Homo sapiens: one gene and its partner. The protein of the gene in region 2 interacts with the protein of the main gene of each other region in a biochemical or structural test. Each region holds a gene or a part of one and is shown on either strand. Other genes may lie near its edges.

Evidence for each region. Proteins that work in one complex are often made in the same cells at the same time.
Region 1: the proteins of GJD2 (region 2) and LNX1 form a complex in vitro, tested with the Homo sapiens proteins (2 studies listed by BioGRID and IntAct, with this or other methods).

The regions. Positions count from the first base shown.
Region 1 is NC_000004.12:53,588,471-53,596,246, reverse strand, and holds the start of LNX1 (E3 ubiquitin-protein ligase LNX), read left to right. Parts: upstream 1-4,760; 5' UTR 4,761-4,859; intron 4,860-7,776.
Region 2 is NC_000015.10:34,751,999-34,759,408, reverse strand, and holds the start of GJD2 (gap junction delta-2 protein), read left to right. Parts: upstream 1-4,410; 5' UTR 4,411-4,920; coding exon 4,921-4,991; intron 4,992-6,036; coding exon 6,037-6,931; 3' UTR 6,932-7,410. UniProt on the Homo sapiens protein: One gap junction consists of a cluster of closely packed pairs of transmembrane channels, the connexons, through which materials of low MW diffuse from one cell to a neighboring cell.

The sequences.
Region 1 (7,776 bases), on a different chromosome or scaffold from region 2:
GTTTGTGAGAGAAATGGAATATCTTCCATATACACAGAACCAGATGGCATTCTATCACATCAGCTGATGTTTGTGATTATTACTCTTATTTCCCATAATTGCCCTTCTGAGATCTGCTCATCTGCGTTATGCTAAGCACATATAATTAGCCAATAAAAGATATGGAGCTGAGCCCATTTAAAAAAGTAATTACGGCCAATATGATGGTATGTAATGTAATAAGCAAGTCCAAATCATAATGTTAAATACCTTTAGAAGATAGCCAAAGAGGTTTTTGTAGAGATGACTTTTATTAAAGTCAAATGGAATATGTCCATTTTAATTGTGGCATTCAATCATCATAGACAACTCTAGAAATATGTCATGGGAAAAAAAAATAGGAAGCAAAATGGGCAAAGTAATTCTGCTGAATCACAAGGCATGGTCTTCGCTGTAGGTTCATTGCCAGGAGGAGTCCTTGAGAACGCCAAGCTTCATGGGGGGATCTACAAGAAAAGAGCTTTGAAGACAGACCTCCTTCCCCCCTTAGATTTCCCTGTCAAGATATATAAAGGAATTCAAACTAATCAAAAAGCCCAAGTGAGCCGGCTGGTTAACTAGGACAGGCCCAACTTTGAGTTCAGAAAGCTTTCTAATGTTTTCCACCTGCCTATCCAAAGAACAAAGTTTCCAGGATATGTTGACTGCAAAAGAGGCTTGCTCCTAAAGAGAAAGATCATGTGGTTGCCGAAATGGCATATCCTGGAAGTTTAGCTCAATGCTGAAAACCATTGTCATGCATAAGAAATTACCCCATGCCCAAGATACTGAGTTTCTTTTTCTTAAGCTGTTTAATCATCATGAGAAAAGTAGTCAACAGGCATGTGAGGACATGAAGCAGTTAGCCCTTGAGGTTCCCGAGGCTCTTTACAGTCTCAGCCCATCTAAATTTAGCAATCAGTGGATCCTCTTCACCCTAGCAAGGTGGGTATTTCATTGTCTCGTATTCCTCTTCTCCCCCACCACACACATGTTCCTCCCCAACAGATATCTGCTATGATCATTCCTGTTCCACCCATGCCACTGCCCTGTCTGGAATGATCTGTGCCCTCTCACCACCTCTCCAAATCGTTCAAGGCCCAATTCATGTTCCTTTCTTCATGAAATATTCCCCAATGGCACCAGCCAACACCAATATTTTTGCTTCCTGATCAGCCCTCTTCTCTGTCTCACTTACTGTCCAACTAGAGATAGAAAAGGGGACCAAGTGGCTCGCACCTGTAATCCCAGCACTTTGGGAGGCCGAGGTGGGAGGATCACTTGAGGTCAGGAGTTTGAGAACAGCCTGGGCACCATAGTGAGACCTCATCTCTAGAAAAAATTTAAAAACTAGCAGGGCATGGTGGCACGTGCCTGTGGTCCCAGCTACTTGGGAGGCTGAGGTGGGAGGATCACTTGAGCCCAGGAGGTTGGGGCTGCAGTGAGCCATGATGGCACCACTGCACTATAGCTTGGATGACAAAGGGAGAGTTGTCTCTAAAAAAAAAAATTAAAAAAGAAAGAAAGAAAAGAAAGTAAGAAAGTAAAAGAAAAGGGTTTGATCTTGGGGGGTAAAACCAACTGCTAGTGTGCCTGGAGTAATATCTTCAAGATTCCAAAGTTCCTTCTGAGTTGAAAAGTGTCATGGTCTTTAGCAATGACAGTGAGAATGGTATGGGAGGGGGGAATGGAGCACTATATGTCCAGGATTTGCCAAGCCTAGTCTAAACCATTCTTCCTGGTAGTGGTTTATAATGAAACTTAATTTTTCATTGTCTCATATTTTCCAAATGTATGCAGTTCCATGTTCTTATGGCCACTCGGATTAAATTTTCAGATTTTAAAGTGATAGGCCGCAGAAGTTACAGAGAAAAATGACCATAAAAGATGTCATAGAGAGTTACAACTGGTCATTCTTGAGGGGTCCCTCAAGCTGGCCTTCCATCTTGGGGTTGATTTGATAAGCTCTCAAAAGATGATTTCAAGTGTGCACCCAGGGGCGATGGATTTCCTGGTATGATTTCTCATAAATATATGCATGAATTTATGAATATATACATATTTATATATACATATATATATATATATTATACACACACTTTCAGCATATAGACCAGATTACTAATTAATTTCCAAATGGAGACATCCTTTATCAGAAACTACCCTCCCCAGGGCTACTTCTACAGGTTTCTACTTCTCCTTCTGAATAATGGGTAAGAAGCTGAATGTGTCCAGGAAGTGTCCCAGTGAGCATGAAATCAGAACCTTCCCTCTTTTCTTTCCAGTGGTTAAAAAGTGGGCCTTGATTAAAAACTGCTCTGCCGCTTGCCGATGAGCTTGTCCTTAGGCAGTTTCTCAGATTCACTATGTCTTGGTTTTCCCAGCTGTAGAATGCAAATAGCAATGATACCTGACACAGGGTTCTTGTATAAAGTGCTCAGAACAATAAGTAGCACCTGTTAAACACAATGTTCATTTTTATGATTACATTTTTTTCTAGTAGTTTAGAAATATAATTTCCATGATAATGTAACAGCCCTAATGGCCCAAAAAAAAAGCCCATATTATTTTTTTTAACCCCTGCATATTATTCGAAATCCAGGAGTACCAAGAAAGATCTCACCTGAGAAGGCTAATTGTGTAGTTTTTTCTCTTCCTTTATACACTATACCTGGGAGTTAGCTCCACTCCTGGATTAACTCTTATTTCTCTATTTTCTTTCTGTTTTACAACAATTCATCACACCACATATGTAGATGACTGTGTGTATGTGAACATGGCAAGTGAAACCTCACGATCTCCAGGCTGTTCGGTGAAGCTTTATGCGAATTCATTTCACCTACACCCTTCCCCTGCCCACCCAAGGCCTTGAACCGAAGCCTGTGATCCCCTCCCAAGTTGGATCCTGCCCTTCGCCAAAGGCAAGACCGCTGAAGGCGTGGCCTTCTAGATGATTCATCAGGTTGGCGGGCTCTCCCTCCCCTCCCCCTTGCCCAGGGGACACCCTGTCCGCGTGAAGAGGGGGGCCTTTGTGTGAGTGATGTTTCTCAATTATCAAACTAGTGGCGTGAAACCTTTTCCTGAAACACCTGAGTGTAAAAGGTTTTGTTACCTCCCTTTTTTTCTTTTAAATAATAAAGGAATAGCCACACCTACCTTAGTTTCTATTGGATAAAAAGGTGAATAGTTTTGTTGTGGTGGTTGTTGTTGTTTTAAGCCTTCAACTCTCAAAAGGCACAGAGTTCCCAGGTGCAAAGAGGTAGCTTAGACCTGTCTGGGGCGGATCGGGGACAGGAGCCAGCTCCCCTGAGGTCGAGCACCAGAGCCGGCCCCCAGACCCCGCCCTCGACTACAATTTCTCTTCCTTCTCCTCCCCCTTGCTTTGCGAGCTATTGACTGACTGCAGCCAGCTGAGGCCCAGGCTGTGGGAATCCGGACTTCCTTTTCTTCCCTCTCCCATTTTTCCTTCTTCCTCCACCCTCCCCCAAACCAAACCCCAAAACCTCTAGGTAGTCCAATATTAAAACCGGTGGAACAAAAGCATTCCCAAAATCAGGAGGAGGGAAAGAAGAAGACGAGGGAGGCAAAAGTAGGAGGAAAATAGGAATGTCAACATTTATTTTCCTGAAGGGGAAAAAAAATTCTCTCTGGGCAGGCAGGCCATCTTCCGGGACGGGGAATCCACAGTTTCCTCAGGTAATGAGTTCCAGGGATGCTGGATGCAGGTGGTAAAAATACGCAGCGTTTCAATGGGATGATGGGAGATGTTTACAGCCCTCCTGGGAAGATGCCAGAGAGTTTAACAGTCCTGGGATACCTCCCAGCTGCCTGCTCTGGTGCTGGATGAGTTTACGCCTCCTTTCCTGCTGGAAAAGGTGAAGCAACCAGTGACTTGTCCAGGGTCACACACCACGCTTGGGACAGAAATAACTCTGACGTCTCTTTCCTGGCTATATCAGCAGACAACATCGCCTAATGACAGTACTACCATTCCAATCTGAATCATTTAAATTGCTCCTAATTGCAGGCCTGCAGTGCACTGTAACTGCCGTATGACTCTAACTGCCAAGCCAGCCGAGATAGGAATGACTGAAGTTTTGCAAATTCCTGAATATGGAATTAAAAATGCTGGGCGGGGGAGGGGGTAGCGCAAAAGTGTTTGAAAACCACTTTGAAACTGCTGACAGGTATCCTATTTCAAATTGTTTAAAAGATGAATTGGAAATGTCAACTTAAATTTGTCATTTTATTGGAATTAGAGAAACACTTGGTGTTCAAATGGATGCGGTTCGAAAAGGCACCTCAGATATTTCTAAGAAGTTCGGCTTCACACTCTTCCTTTTTGTGTCTGCTAAATTACTGTCTCATTTTGGTGTTTAAACTTCCCTTTTAACTCCTTTGTGGGCAGATATGGGGAAAGGGGAGGGCCTGGGAAACAACCAGGCATTTGACTTCAGATCTGAACACGGGGCTGGACACGTGCTGTGCTCAGGAAAGAAAGTAAATTCCACCTGGCAAATTGCTCTAACTGATTTATTTGTCCACAAAGAGACGCCACCTACCTGCTTGCAGGTATTCAGGTAAATGACAGGTGGGCGGGGCCTCCTGACTCTTTCAATCCCTAAGGTCTCAGCAATGCTTTATCTGTCGGGGCTTCCGTGATGTCACCCATTTCCTGGTCTGGAGCGACCAATGCCGTCCTCCTTCCTCCAGGCACCTGTTCACCGAAGTTGAGGCTGGTCACAACTCCGGCGGCCCAAGGAGCTGCTCGGTTCACCCACAAGGAATGAGAGCTGCCTGCCTGCTGCTGCTTGGAGAGCCCCAGACAGTCGCTTGAAGAGGTGAGTTGAAACCCTCCATTTTTCTCTCTTGGCATTTAGACCACTGGCCCCTGAGGGATCTGAACACGGAATTTGAATGAAAAAATACAAGCTGAACGGCTTGTCGCTAGTGTTTGCCCCAGAGGGAGAAGCTTTTTTGAGACAGAAGAGTAGAGAGATGACTTTGACATTCTAGTTGCACAATAAACTTCTCCCAGGCCAGATATTTAATCCTTTTTGTTTCTCTGATCATTAATCCAGCCTGTGCTTGTCCTCGTACTTGATCTGATTAAAACAACAACAACAACCTAAAGAGAAGTAGAGTGAAGGCTTTTGTTTTGAAACTTAGCGCGAAGGTGCAGATCTGTTCAGCCCGTTTAACGGGGGCTAGGAGGCCAGTGCAGACTGGATTCAGAGTTCTTATTTTTCCTTTTCTTCCTCCCTGTATTTTGATCTAAACCTGTGAAGTGTCCCTAGTTTTTTTTTCTTTCCCCCTGAAAACCTGTTCCTCAGGGCAAATTCTGTTGCCCTATTCAGAAGCTGTGCGTTCCAGTTTTCCTCTCTTCTCTGAAAAAGTCTACCATTTTCTTTGCTCTTTGTTGAACACTCTTTTAAATACGACTTTGCAGTGTGCATTTAGAATTTGTTTACATTTAGACCTGGACTGGCTGCCTGCTGACCTTTGGTTACAGTAAGAATTAATTCCCTCATTGCTGCAAGAATGTGACTTCAGGTCTGATTTTTAATTTTTTGGACCTCTTTGGCTTTTTCTGTCTCTTTTTCTTTTAATAGCAAATATACCGAGGAAGTTGTTCTGCCAGGACCTGGCTTTTAAAGTAATTTTACCTCTAGGATCCATTTTTGTTTTCTTAATCCTGATCACACAGCCTGTATCTTGACAGCCCAATAGTCAAACTCTTTAGCCAATATTGTTGTCAGAGAAAGGAAACCATTTTTAAGCCCAGCTGCCTGCTGGGATGAGCTGGAAAAACTGGAAAAAGAAATAAATCTGCGAGACACTTCATTCTAGATTCCAACATCAGCTGTTTTTCTGAGATTTAAGTTAGCAGATGTTTGCAAGGGAATAATCTGTTAGGAATTATGCTCCTGTTCATCCACCCAGAAATACAAAATGCATGTAAATTCTCCCAAGGTATGAATTGAAACAAGCTGAGATCATTTTTGCCTTAGACAGACAGTCGTTCCTCACCACTAAGAATCTGCCCAGTTCTTGTTGCTAATTTCTGTCTTACTGTTTGGAGGTCCCTATTGTTCTTCCTTAACTGACCTTTGTTTATTATTTTCCCCAAGCTTGTGAGTTTAAGGGGGGGGGTTTGGCCACCACTTGTCTCTTACTAAGGTTCTCACTTGATTCAAAGCTTGGATCTTCTGATAAAAGTGCATCTAAACCTCTCCTCAAGATTACATTGCCTCTGGTTTACCATGGTTGATTAGTGCTTTTCACAGTAGTTAATTTATGATTAAATAAATAATTTCATCACTGTATGTCAGCATGTCTGAGTACTAAAGGAACAAAGCTGTAGACACTGTACCCCCAGGTAGAAGAAAGAAAAGAAGTGACAAAGACTGGAATTCAGAGTCAGATTGACTAGAATGCAGTTGGTCTGTTGGGTAATTTACACACAAGTCCTGTCCAGAGTTCCTGTGGTAACTCCACCCATTGGTTCAAGTGGACATAGGCCTGATGGAAAAATGTGCAATCTCCTTCATTTATATCCTTGAGCAAGTTACTTCTCTGACTTTCAGTTTCTTCATCGGTAAGATGGGAGATAATAATCCCCATGATCTAATGTGGTTGTGAGAAGTAAATGAGGTAGCTAATATATGTTAGCATCCAGCGACCAATGCCTGGTGTTAACTGGTGCTAAACTGAGGCTAGGTTCTTCCTTTGGAAGGAATTTTCCTAGGTTGCTTGGAGGAGAGAGTCTGACTCTATCAAGATAAAGATCATATGTGGTTGCAGTTGTAGGAACCTTGATAGTTCTTGTTATTGTAATTAATTGTAGGTAATTAACTGCAATGTTAACAGTTTGGAAAAAGAAAACAGGCAGGAGAATTCTTAAACAATGTCATCAAACAAGGTGGGCAGATTTGTCTCCGCTAGCCTCACAGGCAAAGCTTTTAGGAGTTGCTGGCTGGCTGTGATTTCTTCCTTTTCCCACTCTAAGGCTCTCATCCTGCAACAGACCCACAAAATGTGATTCTCCATGGGCCTTTCGGGGGAAATGTCCAGTTGTCATTGCTGTAATCTGACTTGGCAGAGAGTTCTTTTTGCTGTCAGTCGTGCTATCTCCAGGGCAGACTGGGTGTTTGGTCTCCTCCAGTCTCACAGATAAACACCCTTCTCCCTAACCAGAGTGAGGGTTCATGCCGAGCCTCTGGCAGGAGGAAGCCCCTGGTTTGGAGCCTCATTGTACCATAGAAGGAGGTTCATGACCCATTGGATGTGATTGGCCTTGTCATGCAATACCCTGTGCCCTTGGGTGACCTTGAGTCATTGCATATGAGCAGTTGTGTGCCCAGGGCCCTGGTCACTTCTCTGGGTCTCGCCCTTCAGGGATACCACAAATTTTCATCATTCAAGAGTAAGGGATTAGTGGATTGAGGTCAGTGGGTTCTACTGTTCTACTAGCTTGCCTACGGAGCCCTAAGGGAGAACCTCAACCCCCCTGCATGTCAGTTTCCTTAGCTACATTTTTCCCCAAAGGACGCTAAAATGGTGTACTTCACAGGCCCCCTCCATCCTTACAACTGAAGCAAGGTGGGCTGCATGTCCAGGTGGGTAGGTCAGACTGACTGGGGGGACTGGGTAGTGCCTCACTAGAAAATATCAATCTTATTCATTCCATTCTAGGTGGGGCAATGCTACTGCTTTAGAATAGTGGTCTGGTCTCTGGCATCAGGCTGCCTACCTGGG
Region 2 (7,410 bases):
GACTTGATATAAAAGTGAAAGATTATGTGTCAGCAGGAATGATTTGATTCTTAATGCAGTGTTAATTTATTTGCTGTGATTTCACACATCTGCTTTGGCCACAATACCATATTACATTAATCCCTGAGATATTATTACACATAGGTATATTCTCTATATACGAGGTAGTCGGGGAATGGGGGAATTTGTATATGTAATTTTTTTAAAGGCTATATACTCTTTTATTCAAAGAACTAGCAGGCAGAAGACTTTAGATTTCCTTACCATTTGGATACATAATCTCTTGGGCCTAAGACATGATTTGGCATTTGGGTCCATGAGATGGCAAAATAATTTTGAAGATAGCAGATTCTGGAGAATCTTAGACCACAAAGCAAGCCACTATATTTAGGGCTACTTAAGATTGGTACATCGGACAGCTTTACTCTCTTTGGAAACATTACTTCATAAATTTTGTCTGAACAGCAAAATCAAGTGTTTTCCTAAACATTTGAACTGAGGCTTATACATAGGGAAGGACACATGAAAGAAAAAAAGAGAAAAACCACTTTGCAGCAAATAAAAATAGATTCCATCTGCCACTTAGGTTCTTTTGAGTCTCCCAAGACAGGTTGGGGTTGCCCCTTAAGAAGACAAGTTGATGGTTTCATTAGGAAACAGATGCACGTAGGCCACTGGGAGAGATAAAGCTCAGTTAATCCTAGCTATTTGTGAATGAAATGTAGGAGAGTTCAACACAGAGATCAATTCCAAATCGAATGCAGTCCCTCCCATGCCACACAAATTTCAGGAGGCTACAGATGCTGGTCCTTCCCAATCCAGGACTGAGCTCAGCTAGCTGGGGTTGCCTCTCTGATGCTGCAGCCCAAGCCTTACCTGCTCAGCTGCATTCCCCCGGTCAGTTCAGCGGGTGTCTGGACTGCAGTATTGAGAGAATAATGGAAGTGAGGGCAGGGGGCTGGTGGTTAGTAAGAAGGCTTTCTACTGAGGGGTCCAGGCTATCCTAAGTGTGTAGGAACTTTCACTTCGCAAAGGGAGCCCCTTTCTCCTTTCTGACTTGAATATTACTTGTGATTGTGGAGGACACCCAGGACCCACTTCTCCTCAGGAAAAGTGCAGTTCTGCTAGGCTGAGGGGAATAGAGAGCCAGAATAGCTGACCTTCACTTTCAACAAATGCTTGAGTTTAAAGACGCTATGAAAAGAACCATGACATATGAGCATGCTCTCTGATCTCTAGGAATTTACAGTCCAGTAGAATAGAGGTCAGTAGATTAATGTTCATTCTTACAACATATACAAAGCTCCTATGAGGTTTCATTTACAAAACATTTGAAGCTGCAAGGCTGAAAGGTTCACCTGGGAGTCTGTGGTTGAGAAGAGAATGAAATTTTGAGCACATATAAGGATAAGAACAAATTCAGACACCCCTATGTAGTAAATGGAATCATTGTTAGTAGCTCTACATTCTCTCCTGTATTATAACATTCAACAACACCCTTTGCTCCATGCCTTTGCAGTTTTTCCCACTAGATGTGGATAATATTTCCCTGCTCTGTTAATGGAAAATACTATTTGGTAAGACATAGATTTGCAGATCAACAATCTAGGTATTTTTTTCCTCTAAATGTCTGGAGGTGAGCATGTTCCCACTTTAATTCCCCTTTTCTTCTTCAAATATCACATTTTTTTCATACTTTTAAATAATTTTGATCTTCTCTAGGATTCTGAATACCACATTCTTCATAGCTTTTCCTTTGCTACCCATATGATTTTAGGCAAGCTAGCTAAGCTTTGGGTCAGTTTTAACACTATGAAACAAATGGATGATAGATTTCCTCATCCCTAGGATTCACTCCTGCCCTAATAGTCATGGAACTAAAAGTTCTCAGGTTTTTATTGTTATTGGAGCTGTGGATGAGAACCCGTTAATAACACAGCTACCTCAATCTTGTTTCCATAGATTTCAATTTAGCAGAATTGGGATGGGATCGCAGCATCTGTCTTTTTAATGAAGATCCCCAGACAGTCTGTTGTGCAGCAAAGGTTATTCTATGAGCATTCTACGAATTTCATTGTTTCTCATCCAAAACTATTATTTTAATAAACAGAATGGCTTTTAAATAAGATGTAATGGAAAGAACTTCCCAGCTGCCTTAAACGGGGGTTTTCAATCAGAGGAGAGTTGAGATAATCAGAATCTATCAAGAAGATACAATGCCCTGAGGAAACTGAGAGATGCCCGGATCCACAGAGAACCATTTCACATTTAATGCACATTTGTTTATCGGAACAAATTATTAATTGAAAATGGAGTTGACTGGACTTGAAGGAGGAAGTACAATGTAGTAAGTGTGAAATTTATGAGTGGTTATTAAAAATAAAAATGGTTATTTCTGAAGTGTGGTGGTGAGACTAAGATTTTTATTTAAAAGTAGCCTACACAGTCCAACTGATGAGTTTTAAAATATAGGTTCTATATATATGCGTCTTTGTGCACTTATACACCTATGTTGTTTGCACATGTTTATATGTGGAATCTATATGGCATATTAAAGTATATTTCAAAATAATACACAAATGATCAACAATTCAGTCATAGCGTAGTGTCTGATAATTGCATTTCCTGCAGTCTATGTTCTTAGGATCATAATCTTTAACGGTTTGGGAAAGCCAACACATAAAATGACAATTTTGAGTTGTGCAGCCTATTTTGGGACATTTAAAGATGTTAAACAGATTTCCCTTTGGACTTACTCATTCACTTCTTGGCTAAGATCATTTACTATAAGAGAGTCTGCCAGACAAGGAGGGAATACAGGGACCTAGGGCCAAGGGGAGTAGAAGGGAAACCTGGGAAAACACACCAAGTTTGGGTTAGGGGATCACCATTCCATCTGGAAGCTAACTGGATAATAGGGTATCCATTCGTCCTCACCCTTGAACCTCCTCCGTGTTCAGAAGGAAACTAATAAATCACTTTATCCCTCTCTCCATTGTTAGTGGACTCTTTTACTCCTTTGCAGTGAAAGGCTGCTTTCTTGGGGTAAAGATGTCAACCCTAGCAGAGGATTTCAGTGATCTTTCTGGCGGCGAAGCTTAGACCGTGTGTTTAAACATCATTTTATGAAGAAGTACACTGTGAGTGGACTGAGGGCCATGCCCTGCACCTTTCTTCCCAGTCCCTGGGCCACCAACTACCCAACCACCTCGGTTGTTCCAGAAGTGAAGGCTCACCATGGTGTGGCTTATGTAATATACATATGTGCTATGATCCCTGTGGATAATTAAGGCTAGGTCCCTTTATATGCCTAGGACAAGTTAGCAACCCTTTCAAGGTCGTGTTTTCGAAAGGATGACAATTACTTTCCCATTGGACTTTTGGTACATTTACATCAAACACTGCCAGCTACAGTGTCTCCTAATACTGACCCCTGGGCTAATTAGCAGCTTAGTGAGGTTGTTTCAATTTTTCAGCAACCAATTAAGTAGTTGCTCTAGACAGAACTGACAACACAATGTGAATTTTAAAAACCGGGATCTGCTGGTTGAGGGGAGAAAGCCAAACCCAGTAAGGCAAGTGGGGGCAGGGCGAGGCTGTGAGTGGCTCTGTTTCTGCTAGCAGAATACTGGGTCTTAAATTCAGATTAAATCACAGTTTACCTGACGAGTACCCCGCCCCCCCTTCCCATTAGTAAAATAATAGCAATAATTTAAAAAGAGCCGAGCATCTGGGTTAGTGCAAGGGGAAGCGAGACCTTTAACCATGGCCACCCCACTTGCTCTTTGCGAGGCACCTGTTAGATGCGCTCGTGTGCCCTGACCCCTATACCGAGAGACAGCTCCACACCTGCATTTACCCTTCAGCCTAAATGGATTCCCATCAAGCCTTTCTCACTTCACTGTCGGATCCACAGAGGCACCGAACCGCAGCCACTCTGCAGAAGCACTCTCAGCCACTCTGTCCCCTAAGGGAGATTTAAAAGTGGTCGCCCCCACTCGCCCTCCCTCAGCCAGCATCTCCATCTAGGGAAGGAATTTCAGTTGTCTCCAGGAGGCAAAAAGCGAAAAGGTGAGGGATGCACCGAGAGAAGAGAAGATACCTACTCACTCCCCTCCCCACTCACCCACGCGTCCGCTCCCGGCTCCCCCTCCGCCTGCTTGGGTCTGGCGGTCAGGTGAGGTTACCTGGGCTCCCCGAGAAGCCCCGAGGGGCGCTGCAGTCCTTCCTTTCGAAATCGCCCCGCTCCCCGCCGGGCCTCCAGGACTCTTGCCCCTCTCCCCCCGCGCGCGTCCCCGGCCCCTCGGGCTCCGACGCGCAGCGACAGCCGCACGGCGCGCTCTGCTCCCCTCCGCCGACCTGGCGTGACGCAGGCGGAGACTACTTAAGGGCGGATTAGAGGCGGCGGCCGCGGATCCCCGAGCCCAGCATTCGGCTCCGCGCGCTCGGCCCTGGCCTCGCAGGCTGCCGCGCCGGAGCGCCAGGTGCCCGCTGAAGTAGCAGGAACAGAGCCGGTGTTCGGACCCTCCCCTGGCCCCCAACCTGCGGCGGAGAGCGGCGCTGAGACTTCTCCTGGGCGGGCGAGCGCTGGAGGACCTGCAGGCTGCCACCCCGCCCCGCCCCTCGTCCCGGCGTCCGCGGGATCCAGACCCGAACCCCGGACGGCGCCCGAGGTTCGTGCCCTCTCTCTAGACCGCGCCAACTGCCCCATCGGTCGGGACGCGCTTGGATTTCTTTCCCCATTTCTTCTCTTTTAAGTACAATAAAAGGAAAGGGGGATTCGAGGATTTTTTAAAAAATTGCTTCTTTAATTGGGAGGCAATTCACTCCCATTCTGGAAGTGCGGCCCGGGGAGGGGCCAGGAGCGGGAACGTGCCCGGTGCTGCCCAGTCTTTGTCTGCTGCCTCCGGATGCACAGCGATGGGGGAATGGACCATCTTGGAGAGGCTGCTAGAAGCCGCGGTGCAGCAGCACTCCACTATGATCGGGAGGTAAGGGCGCCAAGCCGGCGGTCAGGGGGCCCCGTCGGGCGGCCCCCGGGAGTCCCTTCTCACACCTGGACTGAGTCTCCCGCTCCAATCCCCAGTCCGTCCTCTGCCTCCTCCCCATCGTCCTAGGTCAAGGCTCCGGTGTTCCCGGCGATGAGGGATTACCCGACGCCCCGCGATGCCCCCCTCCTCTAGCTACTCCTAACCAGCTGCCCATCCCTTCCCCATCAAGCACCACTGGGGCTTCACTCTTCCCACATCAGAAAAGGAGCCGCTGGCTCAGTCTTGGTCCCTCCACTCTCCAGAGTCAGAGCCAATCTCCATTTGGTTCCCTAAATAGAATCTACAAAGAAGGCAGGATTGCATTTGGACAGAAAAGGGCAAATGGGGAGATGGATTTGCTCTTCAGAGCAGATGCCTCTTTTCTCAACAAATAATTACTAAACCAAACTTATTTGGCGGTGTAAACTTACCGAGCCTACACACCCAATTGCCATTTTTGGGTCTGTATCTATATCTATGTCTCTATCTACCTAGCTTTATATATATATGAGTTCAATATATATGAATATATATTCATAGCCATCTGCTTATATAAAGCATTAAATTTAATATTCATGTTGAGAATAAACTAAATATACACATGGAGTAGTTATTTACACACCCTGTGTGTAGACCTCGAAGCATGCACCATCTGTAAAGGTATTCTGTGTGCATTTGCCATATCCAGAGTGAAGGTGTGTTTTGTGTTTCTATACATTCTATATAGAGAGATGAAATCTATCTGTTGCAAGTAGACTATGTCCAGTGTATGGAGATGTGTGTACCTGGGATCTCTATAATATGAAATATTCCCAGCCTACCAGCACTCAGCAGAAAAGGAAGAGACAAAAAGCTTTCCCAGATTCCTAGTTCAGTACCAGCCCGGGATGGACAGCTCCCCAGTCAAAAGACTGGTAAACACCAGCAAAGGGAAGGGAGGAGCAGGGGTTTCCTGTCAGTGACGCAGCCCGTGAGAACCTCTCTCCCTCCCTCTTCCTCCGTTCAGGATCCTGTTGACTGTGGTGGTGATCTTCCGGATCCTCATTGTGGCCATTGTGGGGGAGACGGTGTACGATGATGAGCAGACCATGTTTGTGTGCAACACCCTGCAGCCCGGCTGTAACCAGGCCTGCTATGACCGCGCCTTCCCCATCTCCCACATACGTTACTGGGTCTTCCAGATCATAATGGTGTGTACCCCCAGTCTTTGCTTCATCACCTACTCTGTGCACCAGTCCGCCAAGCAGCGAGAACGCCGCTACTCTACAGTCTTCCTAGCCCTGGACAGAGACCCCCCTGAGTCCATAGGAGGTCCTGGAGGAACTGGGGGTGGGGGCAGTGGTGGGGGCAAACGAGAAGATAAGAAGTTGCAAAATGCTATTGTGAATGGGGTGCTGCAGAACACAGAGAACACCAGTAAGGAGACAGAGCCAGATTGTTTAGAGGTTAAGGAGCTGACTCCACACCCATCAGGTCTACGCACTGCATCAAAATCCAAGCTCAGAAGGCAGGAAGGCATCTCCCGCTTCTACATTATCCAAGTGGTGTTCCGAAATGCCCTGGAAATTGGGTTCCTGGTTGGCCAATATTTTCTCTATGGCTTTAGTGTCCCAGGGTTGTATGAGTGTAACCGCTACCCCTGCATCAAGGAGGTGGAATGTTATGTGTCCCGGCCAACTGAGAAGACTGTCTTTCTAGTGTTCATGTTTGCTGTAAGTGGCATCTGTGTTGTGCTCAACCTGGCTGAACTCAACCACCTGGGATGGCGCAAGATCAAGCTGGCTGTGCGAGGGGCTCAGGCCAAGAGAAAGTCAATCTATGAGATTCGTAACAAGGACCTGCCAAGGGTCAGTGTTCCCAATTTTGGCAGGACTCAGTCCAGTGACTCTGCCTATGTGTGAGAGGGCAGGTTTCATGAAGGTCTGGGGGATGGCAAGGAGCCCCAAGGCAGATGACTGCTCAGACGTGGCTGTATCCACCCTCATTTATGTGACCCTCACCATTAAGATGTAGGATAAGACTGGATAAAAGAAGATTTTGCACCAATGGGAAAGGAGGAAAAGTGGACCCATTTTCACATATCACCTAATTGGTTCTACAGAGACGATTGGGTAGAGTGATGAAATGGATCAATTAGACTTCTTTGGTCCCTTTCTGTTTATGGCCTAGCCTGATCCTGATAACACTGAACTTGCACAGCTACCAAGTAGGACTTAGCCCTGCTGAGCTCTTTATTCTGGTGAATGGTGTGAGTTGAGTACTTCATTGATATAAAATTTGTGACCTATCTCAACCCATCCCTTTATCCTGAGCCATGGGACAAACATCCTTGAGGCACTCTTCATGTATCTCCCCCACCAGCATGCCCCTTTCCCTCAAT